3 separate regions of the Homo sapiens genome follow, and all the other regions are linked to region 1. Evidence: fine-mapped expression QTL. A gene starts in region 1. Each other region holds a variant in brackets. All regions are shown on one strand. Distances are from middle to middle. Region 1 holds the start of DCP1A (decapping mRNA 1A). Region 2 has its middle 9.7 kb from the start of TKT. Region 3 has its middle 64 kb from the start of CACNA1D.

Evidence for each region. PIP is the estimated chance that this variant, and not a neighbour inherited with it, causes the effect. A credible set is the group of variants that fine-mapping cannot tell apart.
Region 2: its variant is the best candidate, but not a certain one, in a credible set for the expression of DCP1A in testis (GTEx, PIP 0.54).
Region 3: its variant is the best candidate, but not a certain one, in a credible set for the expression of DCP1A in whole blood (INTERVAL, PIP 0.70).

What each region holds. Positions count from the first base shown.
Region 1 is chr3:53,344,528-53,351,925 of GRCh38, forward strand. DCP1A (decapping mRNA 1A) reads right to left here and starts at 3,016. Exons shown (of 10, transcript NM_018403.7): 1 at 2,856-3,016; 2 at 375-415. The coding sequence starts at 2,990. LOC105377094 (a long non-coding RNA gene) reads right to left here. Exons shown (of 3, transcript XR_940847.3): 3 at 6,243-6,352. RefSeq lists enhancers at 2,024-2,614, 2,615-3,205, 2,741-3,510.
Region 2 is chr3:53,262,015-53,269,412 of GRCh38, forward strand. No RefSeq gene overlaps it. Among named protein-coding and RNA genes, the nearest start is that of TKT, 9.7 kb to the left of the region's middle. The variant T/G (reference allele first, on the strand shown) is at 4,250.
Region 3 is chr3:53,427,344-53,434,741 of GRCh38, forward strand. No RefSeq gene overlaps it. Among named protein-coding and RNA genes, the nearest start is that of CACNA1D, 64 kb to the right of the region's middle. The variant G/A (reference allele first, on the strand shown) is at 2,949.

The sequences.
Region 1 (7,398 bases):
GGATCGACCTCTCAATAACATTATTTTACAGAGCCAGTCTATGTATTGTCTTTTCCCCAAATATATATCTTTCTTTTTCTTTCTAATATGGGGGTAGGAAGAGAGACGCAGGCATCCATTTTAGACTCAATCATTATTATTTTGAAATTGCTTTGCTAGGCTGGTAATATAAATTCTAGTTCAGTTTATTCTGAATCACAGAAAGGCTCAGAGAAAAGAAAGAACCTGGTTAAGATTTCACAGCTAGGGAAAGATGAAAACTTGAAGGGTACTAGCAGGACGGTTCCAAAGACAAATGTACAAGAGAATTGAACCGTTTCACATTGTTCACCACTAGACTGTTAAAAACAAATATACATATTTTAAAAACTTACCTTCGATATACGAATAAGGTCCCTTCTATATCAGTCTTCTCCTATGAAAGACAATGACTCAATTAGTTTTTTTTCCCCATAATCAGACCCCAAATAGTCCCCATGGAGAAGTAATGCTTCACGTTTAAGATCAACTTGTTTCATTTCATCTATTATAAAATTAACCACTTTTGAACAGGTAAAGTCTCCCTCTCATTCCACAAATTGTGGTTACCATTTCTAATGTATCCTTTCAGTGCATAAGCATATGCAATATTTAATCCAGCAACATATCTGTATCTGCAGTATTTTTCTTTTTTAATTAGTAAAGGAGAAAATCATAGAATAAACCTTCACTTTTTATAGCTAAAATATTTTAGCCAGATTTCTTAACTTTAAAGCTAAGGTCCTGTATACTGCAATTTCTTCTCTTTTAAGTTTATCCAAGTTAATTTTAAAAAAGGAAAGGAATGAAACTTTCTTATAGGATACTTTGTTTCATCACTAGGGAGTTTTCGTACATTTTGACAACTAGCAAATTTTGTGGTTAAGAATTACTACCAAACAAAATCAGCTTGTTATTTTTAGAACTTGAAGAATCTTGAATACTGAAAGTATACCCTGCCTCAGTGTAATTATTGGAGGCCTTTACCATAGTTCATTTTCTGTGACAAGAGTGTATTTAGGTTTTAAACACAGTTCAGTGTTTTTTAAAAAATAAATAAGCTTATTAGTCTGCAATTTACAGCCTACAATGGACCTAAATATTTTACTGTAATCAACGCATTATTAACATTTTAAATGTTAGTCATATATTGAATGTGTTGGGATTAAAAAATTTAGAAAATTGATCATCTCGATTTCTTCCAGAAGTACTACCCTAGCTTAAATATCATTATTTTCCTTCCTAAGGATTCAGAGGCTTTTTCTTACCTTTAAAATGTTAGGTTATTACTATAAGAAACTGGTAATCAACTGTCTTACAGTAAAAGAAAATTTGCCCACCAAAAAACATCATGCAAAGTTACAACTCACTGTAAAATAATAAAGAGGGAAAAGATTTTTGTCATGCTCTATGTGCCAGGATCCAAATAAACAGTAGCAGCTTATTTTTCAATTCAGGTTATTATAGCTTGTATTTCATATTTAAAACAGAACTCCACAATGTAAAATTTTAAAATATTGAAAGCCTTTGTGAAAAACTAGGAAAACTCTAGCCCCAAGTCTTCACCATTTGTCGGCAATCCATATTTCAAAATTTATATATAGGCCAAGAAAAGAAAAAAGATTCATAAAATTTCAAACTAAGGCAATGTCTAAAATAGCTACATTTAAAAAACAATCTACAATTTTATTCCTTGTGGCTTCCCATATCTCCTTCTCTTCCAGGAGGCAAAGATAAACAACGTGATTATAAAAACTCTTCATCTGAATTAACTGTTCATAAATGCCAAATGATTTTCGATAAATTACTGATAAATATAATCTATGCAACTGTATTATAGGGTAAACGACATACTACGGTCATCTTCCAGAGTTCTGTCAGTTTAAGGATTTCGTATCTTATTGAAATGTGAACTCCAGTCATTGGTGAATTCAATCCAACAAGCATTTACGTATTACTTTCTAAGTGTAAAGCCTGTAGCTGAATGAGTTAATTAGGAAGGGTCAATTACAAGAAAGTGGGAAATTATGCTTTTTAAACAACTAACAAAGCTTCAAGCAGGGGCTAACAAGAATCAGTGAACACACTGAATGTGACTTTTCGGACCCTCCCCAGTGCACGAAAGCCAGAAAGTACTGAGTCCGAGGGGAGCATTCAGAGATGACATCACCAGCATCATAGATGGAACAAAACACATTTACAGGGTCTCTCTTGTTTGTACAAAGGTCTTCGGGGATCCAGTGAACACGGAAGCCCTTTTCCTAAGTGCCTTGGAATCTTTTCCGAAACTCTGTGTAGTTCGATTAAAGCCGGACCCACCCACCCCCTCCTTCCAAGAATCGAAACTAATTGGATTTTAAACTTTAAACCCAAATGACCTCTGCGACAGGGGCTCTCATTTACGTTTGCCAGGGGGAGAGGAGGAGTGTTTATTTTATAGATAATGTACATATAATTTATCTAATAATCCGCAAAGCCTCAAACACAAGCTTTCAGGCACCCTTTTGACCCCACCGGTCTTATAACTCCCAATGTATCTGCAAAGAAGGCAGGTCGCCCACGTCCCCAGACCCGACGCCAAGGGACTGATCCTGCTCCAATCCTCCCCTCCACTGGCTTTTCCTTGGGATGTCTCGAGCCACTTCTCTCACTCCTATCCCCCAATCCCAAGCGGACCCGACACCCCTCAGGCTCTGGCTAGGCTCTTGGCCAGACCCTGGCCTCGTCTCCACCGCCCTGGCCTCTTAGTGTGCCCCCCCACCCCACAGTAACCCGCGCGGCCCCTTTAAGAGACGGCAGCGGCCGGGTGGCCGTCCTCAGGGCCAGGCGGCACTCACCCACTGGTTGGCCTTGGGGCAGAAGGTGTACAGAGCGACCTGGCCCGTGAGGTCTGCGATGCTGGTGATATAGGGGTCGTGTTGCTTCAGGGCCGCTAGGCTCATCTCCTGCCCAGCTCGACTCAGCGCCTCCATCTTGAATCCCAGAGCCTAGCCCCTCTGGTGGGGGCGGAGTCGCGGACAGGAAAGTGCCATCGAGGCAAAATTCCCCCATCTGCGTCAGTCCCCTCAACTTCCGCCTCTACGCGGGCCTCGCGGCAGGGCGGTACGTCAGCCATTCTGGTCCGCCGCGCGCACGCTCCGGGCGCCGGGTTCCGGCGTTGTCAGGGTCCGCGGCCCTACGATGTGGGCGGTGTCCAAGGCTGCGTAGTGGAGCTTGCAGGCTGGAGCTCCGGCGCTTCCTTTCCCTGAGCTAAAACGACTGGGTCCTGGGATCTGGCCTCTAGCTCGCCTGCCGAGCTCTTTCCAGGCAAAGGTTGGAGACCGCCGAAGTGCCGGCCTCGCGGTGCGCTGTCTGGCAGGGCCCGGGGCCACAGAAGGAAAACATGTCTGTGGAATGTGGAAATGCGGGACTCTACCGGGCCCGTTTAGAGAGCACAGAAAAACATGGGGGAAAGGGAGAGGCGAGAAGCCCAGAAAATTACCCTAGGTCTCAGATATGGATGTGTCGACCTAAAAGGAAGAAGACTCTGGGGCAAAATAAATGCAAGCAGAGAGTTTATTTGGGCCAAGCTTGAGGATTGCACCCCAGGAGCATAGATTCAAGTTGCCTTGAATATATACACTGATTAGCAGAAGGTACAAGTGGATTTTTTTTCTTTTTTTTTGAGACGGAGTTTCACTCTTGTCGCCCAGGCTGAAGTGCAGTGGCGCGATCTCGACTCACTGCAACCTCCGCCTCCAAGGTTCAAGCGATTCTCCTGTCTCAGCGTCCCCAGTAGCTGGGATTACATGGGCGCGCCACCATGCCCTGATAATTTTTGTGTTTATAGTAGAGACGGGGTTTCGCCATGTTGGCCAGGCTAGTCTCGAACTCCTGACCTCAGGCGATCCACCCGCCTCTGCCTCCCAAAGTGCTGAGATTACAGGCTTGAGCCACCGCGCCCGGCCCTTTTCTTTTTTTCTTTTTGAAACGGAGTCTCGCTCTTTTGCCCAGGCAGGAGTGCCGTGGCACAATCTCAAGCTCACTGCAACCTCTGCCTCCAGGGTTCAAGCGATTCTCCTGCCTCAGCCTCCCAATTAGGTGGGATTACAGGCGCCCGCCACCACACCTGGCTAATTTTTTCTTTTTCTTTTTCTTTTTTTTGAAATGGAGTTTCGCTCTGTCGCCCAGACTGGAGTGCCGTGGCGCGATCTCAGCTCACTGCAACTTCTGCCTCCTGGGTTCAAGCGATTCTCCTGCGTCAGCCTCCAGAGTAGCCGGGATTACGGGCGCCCGCCACCACGCCCAGCTAATTTTTGTATTTTTTTTAGTAGTGACGAGGTTTCACCACATTGGCCAGGCTGGTTTTGAACTCCTGACCTCAGGTGATCTGCCCTCCTTGGCCTCCCAAAGTGCTGGGATTACAGGCGTGAGCCACTGCGTCTGACCCACATAAATATTTTTGTCCAGCCCTGGGAAGAGTCCATGAAGGGTTTAATTTGTCTTGCTTCATTTAAAGCATTAAGCAGATCACTCATTTCATTGGTAAGTGTCTGTTGAGCATTTTAAAGCGTTTGAAAGAGTTAGGCACTAGCTAACAAGTAAAACAAATCATGGAGACTATAGGGAGTTCTATCCCCGCCAGACTTCTTAAAAAGCAACATTTCTTTCGTTAAAAAGGTCATGGAGGCTGGGCGTGGTGGCTCATGCCTGTAATCCCAGCACTTTGGGAGGCTAAGGTGGGAAGACCGCCTGAGGTCAGGAGTTTGAGACCAGCCTGGACAATATGGTGAAACCCCGTCTCTACTAAAAATACAAAAATTAGCCGGGCGTGGTGGCGCACGCCTATAGTCCCAGCTGCTTGGGAGGCTGAGACAGGAGAATCACTTGAACCCGGGAGGCGGAGGTTGCAGTGAGCCAAGGTGGTGCCATTGCACTCCAGCCTGGGCGACAGAGCAAGACTCAAAAAAAAAAAAAAAAAAAGGGTATGGTAGCTAGATGTGTGGGCTCACGCCTGTAATCCTAACACTCTGGAAGGCCGAGGAAGGTGGACCACTTGAGGTCAGGAGTTGGAGACCAGCCTGGCCAACATGGTGAAACCCCATCTATACTAAAAATACAAAAATTAGCTGGGCGTGGTGGCACATGCCTGTAATCTCAGCTACTCAAGAGGCTGAGGCATGAGAATAGCTTGAACCCAGGAGACGGAGGTTGCAGTGACACAAGATTGCACCACTACACTCCAGAGCTTGGGCAACAGAGGGAGAAATTCCATCCAAAAAAAAAAAGGGGGGGGCATGGTGGCATGTAACTGTAGTCCCAGCTATTTGGTAGGCTGAGGTGGGGATCACTTGAGGTCAGGAGTTCAAGACCAGCCTGAGCAACATAGCAAGACTACGTCTGGAAAGAAAAAAAAATTGACATCCCCAACAGAATTGAAAATTTTTGTAAGATAAAACCATATTTTCAAGAAAATAACACTAAATATTTGTATTGCCTATGATTTTATATCCCAGGACCACTGTTTTTTGTCATTGTGTTGATGAGAAGAGTCAAACTCTGTAAAATAGTTGAAGAAATTTATTCTGATCCAACTATGAGTGACCATAGCCCTTGACATAGCTCTCAGGAGATCCTGAGAACATGTGCCCAAGGTGATTGGGGCACAGCTTGGTTTTATACATTTTTGGGAGAGATGAGACATCAAATACATTTCAGGTGTATATTGGTTCTGTCCAGAAAGGTGAAACAACTTGAATTGTGTGCCAGCACACCTGGCTAATTAAAACTTTTTTTTTTTTTTTTTTTTTTTTTTTTTAGAAATGGGGTCTGGCTCTATTGCCCAGGCTGGTCTCAAACTCCTGGCCTCAACCAATCCTCTGGCCTGGGTCTCCCAAAGTGTCCCTGATAAAATGAGTTTTTTCCCCACTGTGTATCAGTCACAAACAAAGAATATCCCATTGAAAAAGGCAATCAGGTTTTATTCATTTGCCAGGGAATGGAGAAGGTGAGCTCTTCCTCTGAAAGCATCTTTTCTTGAAGAATAAAAGGCAAGGGGTTTATTGCCTTTATTCCTATGGGGCAGGAAAGGAATGTTAGTATGTGCAGGGTGGGACTCCAGACACGCAGGCCCAATTCATAAACATGCATCTTCATATATCATATGTACACAAAATGGCAGAGATTTTCTTTTAGGGAAGGGAAATTAGCATTATAATGATATGTTCATGATCTAAAGGCACCCAGGGTTTGCCAGTTCCCATTTGCGCTGGTTTTATGGTGTCTTATCTTCCTCTGGCATCTGGTCAGGGGTCAAGAAGCTCTGGCGCCATCTGGTTTCTTTAAGCAGCAGTGTCTATAGATAAAGGGACCAAAGAAAAACAATAAGAAAAAGGAACTTTCCCAGTTATTTTGTCAGGGCTGTCCTGGTTAACAAAAATGCTGAGATTACAGGCTTGAGCCACCGTGCCCAGCCCCCCTGTTTGTTAATGTAAAGAGAAATTTAGATTCTTTGCAGAATCATGTAAACATGTACAAATGTGGACAAAGACACAGATATCATTCATTCACTCTTAAGTCAGTATTTATTGAACTCCTAATTGTGAGCTGGTGGCCCCTTGGGAGCATCTCACTCTGTTTAAGACATTCCTGGCTCTGAGGGAAAAAAGAAAGTAGGACAGTGCAAGGAAACAGGGATGATGCTAGAGACATTTCTCTTTGAAATCCAGAGGACAGAGCCGCTAACTTAACTGGCTGGGAAAGTCTAGGAGGGCTTCCTGAAGGAGATGATGTTCAAATTGGTGTTCTAGGGATGACTGGGAGTTCAGGGGAAAAAAGTAAGGCCTCTGGTTCATTTCACAGCTCAGTGGTGAGGTAGAGAAGATGTCGTCACCCTCATTTGACAGATGATTTAATTGAGACCTGTGGGGAGAATTCACTGGCTCAAAATTCCACACTAGTCACAGAGGATCCAGTATTAGAATCTAGGGACTCCTATCTTCTACCCTGGGATCCTTTCCTACACGCCCCAGATGCCTTTCTTCCTTCCAGTGGCTGGAGGTAAGAGCCCTATTCCTCTCTACTTACCTTCAATCTGTTTTAAAAATCCGCACCCTAATTTTTAAAAATCTGCACTTTAATGTTTAAAAAACATACATTCATCTGGTACAAAATTCAAAAGGCACACCTGAAACTTAGTTTTTTTTCTTACATAGATTTCCTAAAATAATCGAAGACATTTCATTTTAATTTACTATTTTTGATTGAGCAGGGCTAGCCTATTAAAGAACACCAAGTTATTTTAGGGAATTTTCATATTTGGAATAGAAAATTACTCTGGGCCGGGTGCGGTGGCTCATGCCTATAATCCCAGAACTTTGGGAGGCTGAGGTGCGCGGATCA
Region 2 (7,398 bases), 83 kb before region 1:
GCCACCTTCAGGGGCCTGGGAGGAGTCCTCGTGGAGTGAGTGTCCAGCTCGTGCCCTCCTGTGCCGAGTAGACAGCCTTGCTCCTGAGTACCCAAAAGAGGCATGTAGGTTGACTGAGTTTTAATACATTTATCTCTCCTCCCAATGCCTGAAATTTCCTTTGGGAGGCATTTTTGGGGAAATGCCTCTTTCGATAATGTAGCTCCCATTTGAGAACACAAATGTTTCAACTCATTCACAGAATGTCTCAGTTCTCTTGTACTCAATTTATTCTTGTTTTTTAAAAACATTCAATTTCTTCTTCTTCTTCTTCCTCTTCCTCTTCCTCTTCCTCTTCTTCTTCTTCTTCTTCTCCTTCTCCTTCTTCTCCTTCTTCCCTCTTCCCTCTTCCTCCTCCTCCTCCTTCTTTTTTTGAGACAGAGTCTAGCTCCGTCCTCCAGGCTAGAGTGTAGTGGCACAATCTCAGCTCACTGTAACCTCCGCCTCCCGGGTTCAAGCGATTTTTGTGCTTCAGTCTCCTGAGTAGCTGGGCCTACAGGCATGTGCCACTGGGCCCAGCTATTTTTTTTTTTTTTTTTTTTGAGACAGAGTCTCGCTCTGTCACCTAGGCTGGAGTGCAGTGGCACGATTTCAGCTCACTGCAACCTCAGCCTCCCAGGTTCAAGCAATTCTCCTGCCTCAGCCTCCCGAGTAGCTGGGATTACAGGCACACACCACCGTGCCCAGCTAATTTTTGTATTTTTAGTAGAGACAGGGTTTCACTATGTTAGCCAGGCTGGTCTGGAACTCCTGACCTCATGATCTGCCCGCCTGGGCCTCCCAAAGCACTGAGATTACAGGCATACACCACTGTGGCCAGCCTATTTCTGTATTTTTAGTAAAGATGGGATTTTGCCCTGTTGGCCAGGCTGATCTTGAACTCCTGACCTCAGGTGATCCACCAGCCTTGGCCTCCCAAAGTGCTGGGATTACAGGTGTGAGCCACTGTGCCCGGCCTAAAAACACTCAATTTCTGATTATCGAAGTAAAACATAGTCATCGGAAAAACTTTAAAAGTACAGAATTTTTTTTTTTTTTTCTGACTGGGTCTTGCTTTTGCCTAGGCTGGAGTACAGTGGCACAATCTTGGCTCACTGCAACCTCTGTCTCCTGGGCTCAAAGGGATTCTCCCACCTCAGCCTCCTGAGTAGCTGAGACTATAGGCATGCACCATCATGCCTGACTAATTTTTAGTATTTTTGGTAGAGATGGGGTTTTGCCATGTTGCCCAGGCTGGTTTCGAACTCCTGGGCTCAAGCGACCCACCCACCTCAATTTCCCAAAGTGCTGGGATTACGGGCGTGAGCCACCATACTTGGCCCAGAAAATTTCAAAGTAAACTAAAATCATGGACTATTCCACTCAAAGGGGACTACTGTTAAAGTTGCTTGCTCATTTGACAAATATTGATTTATTATATATAATTGTTATGAAGAAAATAGGCCGGGCACAGTGACTCACACACACCTGTAGCACATTGGGAGGCTAAGGCAGGAAGATTGCTTGAGTCCAGGAGCATGAGACAAGCCTGCACAACATGGTGATACCCTGTCTCTACAAACTAAAAATTTAAAAATTAGGCTGAGCACGGTGGCTCACGTCTGTAATCCCAGCACTTTGGGAGGCCGAGGCGGGCAGATCACCTGAGGTCAGGAGTTCCAGACCAGCCCGGCTAACATGGTGAAACCCCATCTCTACTAAAAATACAAAAATTAGCTGGGTGTGGTGGTGCACACCTGTAGTCCCAGCTACTCAGGAGGCTGAGGCAGGAGAATTGCTTGAACCCAGGAGGCAGAGGTTGCAGTGAGCCTAGATCGTGCCCCTGCACTCCAGCCTAGGCAACAGGGCGAGACTCCATTTAAAAAAAAAAAAAATTAAAAATTAGCCGGGCATGGTGGCCTGTACCTGTAGTCCCAGCTACTCAGGAAGCTGAGGTGGGAGGCTTGTTTAAGCCCAGGAGTTCGAGGCTGCAGTGAGCCATGATTGAGCCAGTGCATTCTAGCCTTGGTGACAGAGCCAGATCTTGTCTCAAAAGTAAATAAATAAATACAATAGGGTCAGGGTCAGGGGTCAGGGGCTGGATATACACTTCAGGTTGTCAGGCAAGGCTGAAGACAGTCATTGCTCAGTATGTTTGCTATTGTGAATTCCTTGTTTTAAAAAATACATTGTCGGCTAGATGCAGTGGCTCATGCCTATAATCCCAGCACTTTGGGAGGCTGAGGTGGACGGATCATCTGAGGTCAGGAGTTTGAGACCAGCCTGGCCAACATGGCGAAACCCCATCTCTACTAAAAAATACAAAAATTAGTTGGGTGTGGTGGGGGGCGCCTGTAATCCCAGCTACTCAGGAAGCTGTGCGTGTGCCTGTAATCCCAGCTACTCGGCAGGCTGAGGCAGGAGAATTGCTTGAACCTGGCGGGTGGAAGTTGCAGCGAGCCGAGATCGCGCCACTTCGCTCCAGCCTGGGCGAAAGAGTGAAACTCCGTCACAAAAAAAAAAAAAAAAAAAAAAATCCATTGTCAGGATCATGTAAAACCATTTTCCCCCTATATTTTCTCATTAGCATTTCAAAATGCTTCGAAGAAATCATTTTTACTAGCTGTGCATTGTCCCATCATAGGGCCGTGTCCTCATCTATTAACCATCCCTTAGGGCTGAACGCTCAGACCCCTTCCAGCTGTTAATCATTGGGTATTGCCCTGCAGTTAACATTTTCGTGCCTAAATCTTGTCCTCCTGGTGAGTTATTTCCTGAACCAGAGTCCTCAGCAGGTGTTGAGAGGAAGGTGGCAGTTTTGCCAGAGATCTGGGTACATATTTGGCTGAGGGCTGGCCAGAAAGCCTGGTTCTGCCACTCATCACCTTTGCTTCCAATTGGCAAGGTCCCATTGTGGGATTGACAGAGTGAGAGGAGAGAGGGAGCCCGAAACCTGCATGGCCTTCAGTGGAGCCCTTTCTCCAGTCCTGTTTCTCACATCTGTAAGAGAGGCTTATTCTTGCTACATGCAGAGGTTGAATTCTCCCCTTGTGCCAGGCCCTGTGTGCCGAGTCAGAGCCCCTTGGGGCCATTTTCTGTCTGGGAAAAGCAGATCCAGCTAGGTTTAGTAGGGCTGGAAGACTTCTGATAGTTTTCAGGTCATAGACCCATAAACTTTTCTGGGCAATTACGTGTAGGGGGTGGGAGTGTATTGGACCCCTCTGGCCAGTAGCAAAGGGAAGTGCAATGAGAGGAGAGAATTCTGAGATGAGTTTTGCAAATCACTTTCACCACGATGTCCGCAAACTCCAGGGTCCTGGGACTGGGCAAGAGCCCCATGAGAGGGAGACAAAGGGGAGGAAAGGGAGTCTGGAGACAGGAGAAAAACGCACCAGCTCCTCGACTTTGCTGGGAGCCAGCCCACCCAAGTACACATGACTTTCCCCTCTTTTTCCTTTCACATTTATTGCCTCTCTCTGTCTCTCTCTCTCTCTCTTTTTTTTTTTTTTTTTGAGACAGGGTCTTACTCTGTTGTCTAAGCTGGAGTGCAGTGGCACAATCTCAGCTCATTGCAACCTCCACCTCCCGGGTTCAAGTGATCCTCCTACCTCAGCCTCCCGAGTAGCTGGGACCACAGGTGTGTGCCATCATGCCCTACTAATTATTTTGTAGAGATGGGGTTTTGCTGTGTTGCCCAGGCTGGTCCCAAACTCCTGGGTTCAAGCAATCCACCCACCTCGGACTCCCAAAGTGCTGGGATTATAGGTATGAGCCACTGTACCTAGCCTCTTTTTTTTTTTTCTTAATCACATTTTTTATCTCATTTTGAGATAAAATGAACACACCGTGAAATCTACCCTCCCTTAAAAGTGTATAATTCAATGATTTTTGGTGTTGAGGGATAGAGAAAATAAATTAATTTTTTTTTTTTAATTCTCATATAGTCACTACAACACAGAACACTTCTGTGGTCCCTGGTCACCAAAATATGTGAGGATTTCTCCCCATCAAGCAATCCTGCAGTGGACACCAGCTGTGTGTCCTCTAATTCAACTCAATTCTGACACTATCTGGAGATAGTGTCAGATCCCACAGACTGAGGGCTCAGGTCCGTAAGACTGTCCCCTACTTCAGATGCCAATCACAGGTCTTGGCCTCTGCAACTTCTGAGGAACTTACTATAAATTGAGGTTCCCAAGATCCCGTCCCTGGTTCAATTAACTTGCTAGAG[T/G]GGCTCACAGAACTCAGGGAAACATTTTACTTATAATGACCCGTTTATTATAAAGGATATTACAAAGGAATCAGAGAAATAGCCAGATGAAGAGACAGATAGGGTGAGGTATGCGGGGAGAGGGAGCTGAAAGTTCCAGACCTCTAATCCTCTAATTACTTGGTCTTTCTGGTGACTGCCCCATCCCGAGCCTATCTAGAGGCCTCACCCCAAGTCACTGTGTTAGCATAAACGCAGGTGTGATCAAAGAGTGGCTTATGAGTAACAAAAGACATGCCTTCTGCTAAGCAAATTCCAAGGGTTTTCAGCCCTGTGACAGGAACTAGGGACAAATACTAAATATATTTCATCAAGATATGGAAGCAGGCTGGGTGTAGTGGCTCATGCCTGTAATCCCAGCACTTTGGGAGGCAGAGGCAGGCAGATCACTTGAGGCCAGGAGTTCAAGACCAGCCTGGCCAACATGGCAAAAACCCATCTCTACTAAAAATATAAAAATTAGTTGAGTGTGGTGGCGCGTGCCTGTAATCCCAGCTACTCGGGAGGCTGAGGCATGAGAATCGCTTAAGCCTGGGAGGCAGAGGTTGCAGTGAGCCAAGATCGTGCCACTGCATTCCAGCCTGGGTGACAGAGCAAGACTTTCTCTCAAAAAAAGGAAAAAAAAAAAAAAAGATATGGAAGTAACCTAAGCATCCACCAAAGGATGAAAGGATAAAGAAAATTTGGGCTGGGCATGGTGGCTTATGCCTGTAATCCCATTACTCTGGAGGCCGAGGCGGGCAGATCATGAGGTCAGGAGTTCGAGACTAGCCTGGCCAACATAGTGAAACCCTGTCTCTACTAAAAACACAAAAAGTAGCCAGGCGTGATGGCACACGCCTGTAGTCCCAGCTACTCAGGAGGCTGAGGTGGGAGAATTGCTTGAATCCGGGAGGCAGAGGTTGCAGTGAGCCGAGACCATACCATTGCACTCCAGCCTGGGTGACAGAGCGAGACTCCGTCTCAAAAAAAAAAAAAAAAAAAAAAAAAATTAGCCAAGTGTCTACTCCAGGGGCTGAGGTGGGAGAATTGCTTGAGCCCAGTAGTTCGAGGCTGCAATGAGCTATGATTGTGCCACTGCACTCTAGCTTGGGTGACAGATCAAGATTCTGTCTCTTAAAAAATAATAATTAGGCCGGGCGTGGTGGCTCACACCTCTAATCCCAGCACTTTGGGAGGTTGAGGCAGGCAGATTGCCTGAGCCGAGGAGTTCAAGACCAGCCTGGGCAACATGGTGAAACCCTGTCTCTACTAAAAATACGAAAAAAATTAGCCGGGTGTGGCAGTGCGTGCTCCTGTAGTCCCAGCTACTTGGGAGGCTGAGGCAGGAGAATCACTTGAACCCGGGAGGCGGAGGTTGCAGTGAGCCGAGATCACGCCACTGCACTCCAGCCTGGGCGACAGAGCAAGACTCCGTCTCCAAAAATATATATATATAAAATAAAAATAAAAAATCTTTAAAAATTAAACAAATCTAAAAAGACCAAATATATTTTGTATTATACCATAGGTATATTCACAGATTGTGCAGCTTGTGCACTTCTAAGCACTACCTAATTTTAGAACTTATTCTTTTTTTTTTTTTTTTGAGACAGGGTCTCTCTGTTGCCCAGGCTGGAGTACAGTGACTCACCATAGCCTTGACCTCCTGGGCTTAAACCATCCTCCCACCTCAGCCTCCAGAGTTGCTGACAGCAAAGGTGTGAGCCACCATGCCCAGCCAGTTTTTTTTATTATTTGTAGAAACAGGGTGTCCCTATGTTGCCCAGACTTGACTTGAACTCCTGCACTCAAGTGATTCTTTGGCCTCAGCCTCTCAAAATGCTTGGATTACAGATGTAAGCCACCACACCTGGCCTAGTTTTAGAACATTTTTACCACCCAGAAAAAGAGACCTGTACTCATTGATAGTTCCCTATTTTTCCCTCTTCCTCATTCCAGGCAACCAGGAATCTACTTGTGGTCTCTATGGATTTGCCTATTCTGGATATTTCATATAAATGGCACCATTGCAATTTGTGATCTTTGTGTCTGACTTCTTTCACTCAGTGTGATGTTTTCAAGGTTCATCCGCCTTGTCGCTTGTATTAGTACTTTATTCCTTTTGTTGATAAATAATTTTCCATCCTGTGGATATGCCACAATATTCCTACCCATTCATCAGTTCACGGACATTTGGTTTTTTTCCACTTCTTTGCTATTATGAATAATGCTGCTTTGAATGGTGATATAAACATTTTTTTGTGGACCTGTGTTTTCAGTTATCTTGGGTATATGCACAGGAATGGAATTGCTGGGTCATACAGCAATTCTACAAACGGTCATCTAACCATTTGAGGAACTGCCAAACTATTTTCCAAAGTGGCCCCACCATTTTACAGTTTCACCAGTGATGAATGAGGGTTCCAGTTTCTCCATGACTTTGTCTACAGTTGTTGTTGTATTTTTTTTTTTTTTTTTTGAGATGGAGCCTTGCTCTGTAACCCAGGCTGGAGTGCAGTGGCGCAATCTTGGCTCACTGCAACCTCTGCCTCCTGGGTTCAAGCGATTCTCCTGCCTCAGCCTCCTGAGAGTAGCTGGGACTATAGGCACCCACCACCATGCCCAGCTAATTTTTTTGTATTTTTAGTGGAGACAGGGTTTCACCATATTGGCCAGACTGGTCTCAAGCTCCTGACCTTGTGATCTGCCCGCCTCAGCCTTCCAAAGTTCTGGAATTATAAGCGTGAGCACCACGTCCGGCCTGTTGTTGTATCTTTTTTACCTGAAGCATCCTAGTGGGTGCAAAGTGTTACCTCATTACGGTGGTTTTGTCACTTATTGCTTTTTAAAAAATATTATACAAGTAACACATATTCCATGTAGAAAATTTGGAAATTTAACAAAAATACTGTGATGGTCAGTTTTATGTGTCAATTTGGCTAGACTAGTACCCAGTTATTCAATCACACACTAACCTAGGTGTTTCTTTTATTTATTTATTTAGAGGCGGAGTCTCGCTCAGTCACCAAGGCCAGAGTGCAGTGGTGCAATCTCGGCTCATTGCAACCTCCGCCTTCTGTGTTCAAGTGATTCTCCTGCCTCAGCCTCCCAGTAGCTGGGATTACAGG
Region 3 (7,398 bases), 83 kb after region 1:
GTAAATGGTTCTAGATCCTTGGAAGAAGAACTGGGGGAATCATTATAGTATAACTTGCTGTGTTGTTAAGGGACTTGGCCACCTCACCTCCTTTGGGCAGTGGGTTCCAGATCTAAAAGTTGCCTTGGGCTGGGAACAGAGTGAGGGAAAGGGAAAGCAAGTTTTTGGTTTGTTTGTTTGTTTGTTTGTTTGTGATCACCCTCAAGCTCCATTCTTCCTTTTAGTGTGTGCGTGTGTGTGTGTGTATGTGTTGCTTGTAGATGTTAAGTAGCACCCTTGATGGCTGTCCATCTGTTTTGCCCCAGGAACATTATAGGCTCTATTCACCATCTCTAAACTCTGTGTGTTAAGTCCCTTTCCCTGCCACAAGCCTCTATGTCTTTGGGCCCCATAGTATACATGAATATTAAGGAGCCCAGCTCTGATTGCCTTTCCAATCATGAACGCTGGCCTGCAGAGAAGAACCATCACTAAACTTGTTGGTGGTGCCAGATAGATGGGGAGTCCTCAAGCTAAAGTTGCCTGTTGGAGGACTCTCTGTCTTGCTAGAATAAGCCTGCATTAGTACCCCTGCTGTGGCCAGCCGTTGGTTGAGAGCAGCCCGTGGAAGCCTGGCACAAATGTGGTGGCAAATCCAGAGGAGTAGCAGCTGGAGCCATCAGTCAGTGATTCCCCTGCAGCAGGGGGCCTAAGCAGTGTGTTTTCACGGCTGCTACACATCCTCTCTCAGGTAAGAGTCCAGGAGTGGAGAAGGCCTCTAGCTCACAATGTGGTAACGGGAAGGAATGACTGTACCAAAGACAGGTAGGCATAGTTTCTGGGGTTTCTTTCCCTAAATTATCTTTGGAAACTTCACTTTCACTTATTTTTTGATGTGCCCAACATTAAAAAAATTGAGATATAATTCACAAACCATAAAATTTTCATATTTTAAGTGTATGACCCAGTGGTTTTTTAGTATAGTCACAAAGTTGTACAAACATCACCACTATCTAATTTCAGAACATTTTTATATCCGCAAAAGAAATCCTGTACCCATTAGCGGTGACCCTCTGTTCCTCCACCTGCATTTCTGGTGACCAGTAATCGACTTTCAGTCTCTATGGATTTGCCCATTATGGACATTTTATGTAAATGGAATCATACGATATATGGCTTTTTATGTCTGGCTTCTTTCTTTTTTCTTTTTTTTGAGACACAGTCTTTCTCTGTCACCTAGGCTGGAGTACAGTGGTAAGATCTTAGCACACTGCAACCTCTGCCTCTTGGGTTCAAGCAATTTTCCTGCCTCTGCCTCCCAAGTAGCTGGGATTACAGGCGCCCACCATCACACCTGGCTAATTTTTTGTATTTTTAGTAGAGATGGGGTTTCACCATGTTGGCCAGGCTGGTCTTGAACTTCTGACCTCAAGTGATCCATCCACCTCAGCCTCCCAAAGTGCTGGGATTACAGACGTGAGCCTCTGCGCATGACTGGCTTCTCTCATTGAGCATAATGTTTTCAAGGTTCATCCATGGTAGCATGTATCAGTACTTCATTCCTTTCGGGGTTGAATAATATTCCATTGTGTGAATATACCATATTTGGTTTATCTGTTCATCAGCTGATGGATATTTGGGCTGTTTTCACTTCTTGGCTATTATAAATAATGCTTTTCTGAACATCTGTGTATAAGTTTTTCATATGTTTATGTATATTTTCACTTCTCTAGGGTATAAGATTAGACCACTGGGTCATATGGTCACTCTATGTTTAATTGTTTGTGGAACTGCTAAACTGTTTGCCAAAGCATGTACCCAGCATTCTTTTTTACTTATTACTTTTTTAGAGATGAGGTCTTACTATATTGTCCAGGCTGATCTCAAACTTCTGGGCTCAAGTAATCCTCCTGTGTTGGCCCAACATTTTTTATAGGCATTTTGGGAGACACAAAAGTGAAGCTAATCCCTCACCCCAAAGAGCATACAAGTTAGAGTAGACGGGAGATGAAATTAACATGTATACATTTGAAATATAAGCATAGTACAGCTAATAATGAAGGGCTAATCTGTGTATCTCCAAATTAAAAGTACATCTACACTCATATGCTCTGAGAGCTAGAAGGGAAGAGAAGAGGAGGGAATGACAAATATGCAGTAGTTAGGGGTGTGCCCTCAAAACCTCCATTTCCACGATCTTCTTCAACAAGACCAGGATGGGACCACTCAGGACAAGGGAAGAGCAACTGCTTGAGATTCTGGAAAGCCTGCCCAGTGGCAGGGAGGGGATGTTCTCTGACTGCTTTGTTTTACATGATATTTTTAGATAAAAATCTGATATGGTAGGCTAACCATCTGTAGAACCTATGTTTTAGATGTTTCTTCCAAAAGTGAACTTAAACATGAGTTAGAGCTACTTCTATTCTCTGAACTGGTGTCCTTGTGATAGATGGTACAAATTTGCTGACTAATTTGTTGAAGTTACAGTTAAAATATGTGACCAGGAGCAGACAGAAAGCAATGACTCTATAGAGGAAATGGACAATGAACTGTGCGTTCTAAGCTATAGGAAGAATATCTTGGAGTATCTTCTATTTTATGCCAAAATGACATTGTTGCATTAGTATTCTGCCTCTCTTCTTCCTTCAGTGGGCTTCTTAATGGATGGAGTCAAATAGTTTTCATTTTCTACCCATTTATCTTTCAGAGACCATATAAATGATAGGATAGACATTATTCCCACTGACTTATTCTGAAATACTTCTTAAATAAAACTAGCATCACCTTTTGTCCATGTCATTTTGATATTTGCAGGTGACTTGTTACTCTGGAAATTCCATAACTTCTCCTCTCAGTATCCAGACCTCATTGCCCTTCAGTCATCACTGATAACTGTGGAAGACTGCTCACCATACACTCTCACCTGACAATGCTCACCCAATCTGTCCTTCGCAAGGAGATTTGTTCTG[G/A]GCTCTACACACCCTCTTTTCTGAGCTTCCTCACCTTCTTGCAAGGCTGACATTAATTCTGAATTTTAAGCAAGAAAATACGGGGAGTGAGGGAGAAGAAGCCTTTTCTGTTTGTGCACTAAAAAGCATGTTCTGTTTCCCTCTTTGAAGGAGGAGGGACTTGATAATGGACTGGTTCCCTCCACTTGTTAAAATTCTCATCTTTTAGTATAGAAAAAAACCAAATTGCATGGTAAAGCTGTCTTTATTTTCTCCATGACTAAACACTGCATTTCTCAGCACTTAACAAGTCATTGTTCTGAAAAATTGGTTTCAGATCAGACCCTGCTTCCTAATGAGGCAGTGACTTAGTTCGTAATACTTTTTTTTTTTTTCTGGACTCTAAACAGTAGCAGGCAGGAAAAAGGGAACAAAAGATGGATGGGAAATAAAATTGCACCATTGCCCCTTTCCAGTGGGGTCTGTCTGTGAGTAATAAAGCGTTGATCGAAGAGCCGGGTCTTTGATTGGAATTCTATGAATCAGCAAGTACTAATTAAACAGCTACTGCATGACCAGCTTTGGGCATTGTTGGTTGAGGGCCCAAGGAAAAGGAGGGTTGCTGCAATCTAATTTGGGAGGCAAGATTTTAATCTTGCTATTTCTGGGCTTCCTGTCTCTATCACATCAAGTCTGAATCTTTCCTTTTTCTTGGAGGATCTTCCAAAAGCTGTGATTCACCTGCTCTTACAACTTTACTTGCCATTTTATTCCCCAAAAGGAACTCTTCTTAAATCTGTCTGGTCTCATGCGCCATTTTCATTGGCTTCATTCACTGCTTTCCCATCTCCCTTATTCCAAACCCAAAACTTCCACCTTTCAGAGTCTAATTCAAGTTCCATTTTTTTTGAAGTTTCTCAATTGCTGTAGAATTTACTGATCATTTTACTTGATTTCTTCAACTTTAGAGCACAAATCTATGTTAAATAATTTGATTCTTGCTTATAAATTATTCTGTATTTTTCACTAACTTCAAGTGTTCCATGAAATTTTCCTTCAGAGTTGAGAAATATATTGTTTCTCTCAGAGTACTTTTTAAGCATCCTTCCATCAAATCAACAATATGTATTAAGTGCTTATTTTGCACCAGCACAGTTCCAAGGCACTGGAGAGATACAACAAGATGAGACAAAGCTCCTGCCCACATGGAATTATACTCTAGAGAGAGAGGCAGACAATAAACAGACCAAACAAATAGATGATCTAATACCAGAGACTGGTAAGTGATGAGCACAGTCTTGAATACATGTACATTCTTATCTTAAGAAATCACTGTTTGGAGAACAAGTGCAGACTAATTAGAGAATAATATAATTAACAACCTCGTGCAAATTATTTGTGCACTTTACAGTTGATCTATGGTATCATCTCGGGTGCTTAACTTTGCGATGCTTCAGTTTCTTCATTTCTAAATTGTCTATCATGTTACTGGTTCCCCAAACCATCAACCCAGCTACTGGGAAGCTGCACCACATCATGGCTATAGGCAGTGCTGCTTCTTGAAGAGAATCTTCATGCTCATGTTCCCTGATGCATAAGTACAGAATCACATCAAAAACAATATTACCCCCTCCCACACTCCAACGATCACACTTAGTTACTTGCATAATTTTCTGGTCTTTCAATTGTTCGAAACCAAGCCTCTAATAATTATTCTCAGTTTTGATTCATATTGAATTAAAGGGACTTTAGAATCACCTAATCCATGACCTCACATTACAGGTGGAGAAATCAAGGCCAAAAATATAGAGGCCAATAAGTTACTGTAATCGTATTTGGGCATGACATATCTGATCGTAGCTCACTGCAGCCTAGACCTCCCAGGCTGCAAGTCGAGGCTGCAGTGAGCTACAGTTGGGAATGTCATGCCCGAATACAATATAGTAACTTGTTCGCAAAATCAGGACTAAAGCCTAGACTGCTGATACTCCCCTCCACCCCCAGCTATAATTTCATTATTTCGTTCCATCTAATCTGGAATGGCTTTCTTTGACCCTTACAGGCTGCCAAGGCGGATATTAGAGCTTATTGTATTCTCTGCTGTGGGACTATTTCCCCAGCAAATACTAAGCTCTGAAAGCCCACCTGCTTATGGCCCTGTCCCTGCTGTATACTGTACTGCCTGGCACATTGGTGCACCCAGTAAATTTTGGTTGAATGATGGCATTATTAGTGAATAATTTAAGTGCATCTTACTTTTGCAAGAAATCCATTTCTAAAGAGTGATGTGTGAAATGAATGTTAGTAAATAGAATATGACTTTCTTCTTTTTTTTTTCCCATTCAGAAAAGATGACTATATTTATTTTGGATTTGCCTTTGATTGGCAGTAGTTCCTTGCATTTTATGCTTTATGTTTCTTCCCCCGTTCAGGGACTTTGTAAAGCAGTTCATAGTGTGTAAACCGACACTCGAGTATACTAAAGGAACAACTATTTAAGCTCACTGTGATTAACTTTTCGTATATTGAAGAATAGTTTATTCTGTCTGTTTCCTCAACCTATTATAGATCTACTTACCACTCCTGGATTTCACATGTTGATTTTTCTCATTCCATGTTGGAATGTTAAGAACCGAAACCAAGTTTGGAGTGGTCCTAGAGTGAGGACAAAGCATAAGCAACATCATAGAACAGTCAGTGTTGTAAAAGACTAGCAAGTGAGGCTGGGCACGGTGGCTCATGCCTGTAATCCCAGCACTTTGGGAGGCCAAGATGGGTGGGTGGCTTGAGCCCAGGATTTTGAGATCAGTCTGAGCAACCTGATGAAACCCCGTCTCTACAAAAAATGGAAAATAAATCAGTCAGGCATGGTGGTGTGCGCCTGTAGTTCCAGCTACTCAGGAGGCTGAGGCTGGAGGATAGCTTGAGCCTGGGAGGTCGAGGCTGCAGTGAACCATGATCACACGAATGCACTCAGCCTGGGCAACAGAGTGAGACCCTGACTCAAAAGAGAGAGAGAGAGAGAGAGAGAGAGAGAGAAAAAAGACTAGCAAGTGAGAAAAGACTAGGGGGTAGACTGAGAGACTGAGATGTGTTGTACAGTCTTGAGTGTCAGGATGGGGAAACTGCATTTAACTTGGTACATCTTTGAAGATTTGATTCATTCAAACCTCTTAGCTATAATCTAGCCAAATTCCTTACCCAATACGTTGAAAATTCCCCCTTTGAAGGGTTTTTAGCAGAGCTTTTCACGTTCTTCTTGATCTGCCCTTGACTTGTCATTCTGGCCTCATTCCTTATATATCCACCAACTGAAATGATGAGCTTCTTCTAGTTTACTGAGCACTCCTTGTTCTATTGCCTCTGGATCTTCACCTCCCCTCATAGCTCTGTATTGATGGTGAACTCTAACTCATTTGTATTTGTAAACATTGTCATCCTGCATTTATTCATTCATTTAGCAAATCATTTGAGTGCTGACTATGTGCAGTGTGTGGTGTACATGACTTAAGGAAATTTAGTAATAAACAAAATCTTCCCAAATAAAAATTTGACTTTGGCTTAAATAAATGTGTACATAAGTATTACTTCTTCTTCTTCTTTTCTTTTTTTGAGTTGGAGTTTTGCTCTGTTGCCCAGGCTGGAGTGCAATGGCGTGATTTCAGCTCACTGCAACCTCTGCCTCCTGGGTTTAAGAAATTCTCCTGCCTCAACCTCCCTAGTAGCTGGGACCACAGGCACCTCCTACCACACCCAGCTAATTTTTGCATTTTTAGTAGAGATGGGTTTCACCATATTGGTCAGGCTGGTCTCAAACTCCTGATCTCAAGTGATCCACTTGTCTCAGCCTCCCAAAGAAGTGGGATTATAGGTGTGAGCCACTGCACCCAGCCTCTTTTTAAAATTTTATTTCAATGGCTTTTGGGGAACAGGTGGTTTTTGGTTACATAGATAAGTTCTTTAGCAGTTATTTCTGAGATTTCGATGCACCCAGCAGTATTACTTCTTATTAAAATAAGAAATGAATGTACACTTGGAATGAAGAGGGAGTTTTTGGTGTAGTGGGTAAGGGATTTGGCTAGATGACATCTAAGGGGTCTGAATAATCTGAGTCACAATTCTATAACACATTTCATAAATGAAACATTGAACTCTAACTTACTCTTAAGGTTTCACATATCATTTCTACCAGGAGCCTTTCCTGTCCCCCACCAACTGAGTTGGACACTGGTCCTGCTCACTCCTTCCCCTTGGTGACCCTGTCATACCACCTATCACTCTGAGTTCTGATTGCTTGCTGAAATGTCTGTATCCATCTCCAGATAGTAAGCTCCTTGGGAAGGGACTCTGACATGTTCACCACTGTATTCCCATTGCCTGGCACACAATGGCATGAGTATTTGATGCATGAATAAAGGAAATAATGAGCAAATAAATGCATGGGTGGAATGAAGTAATTGGTGCTGCTCTT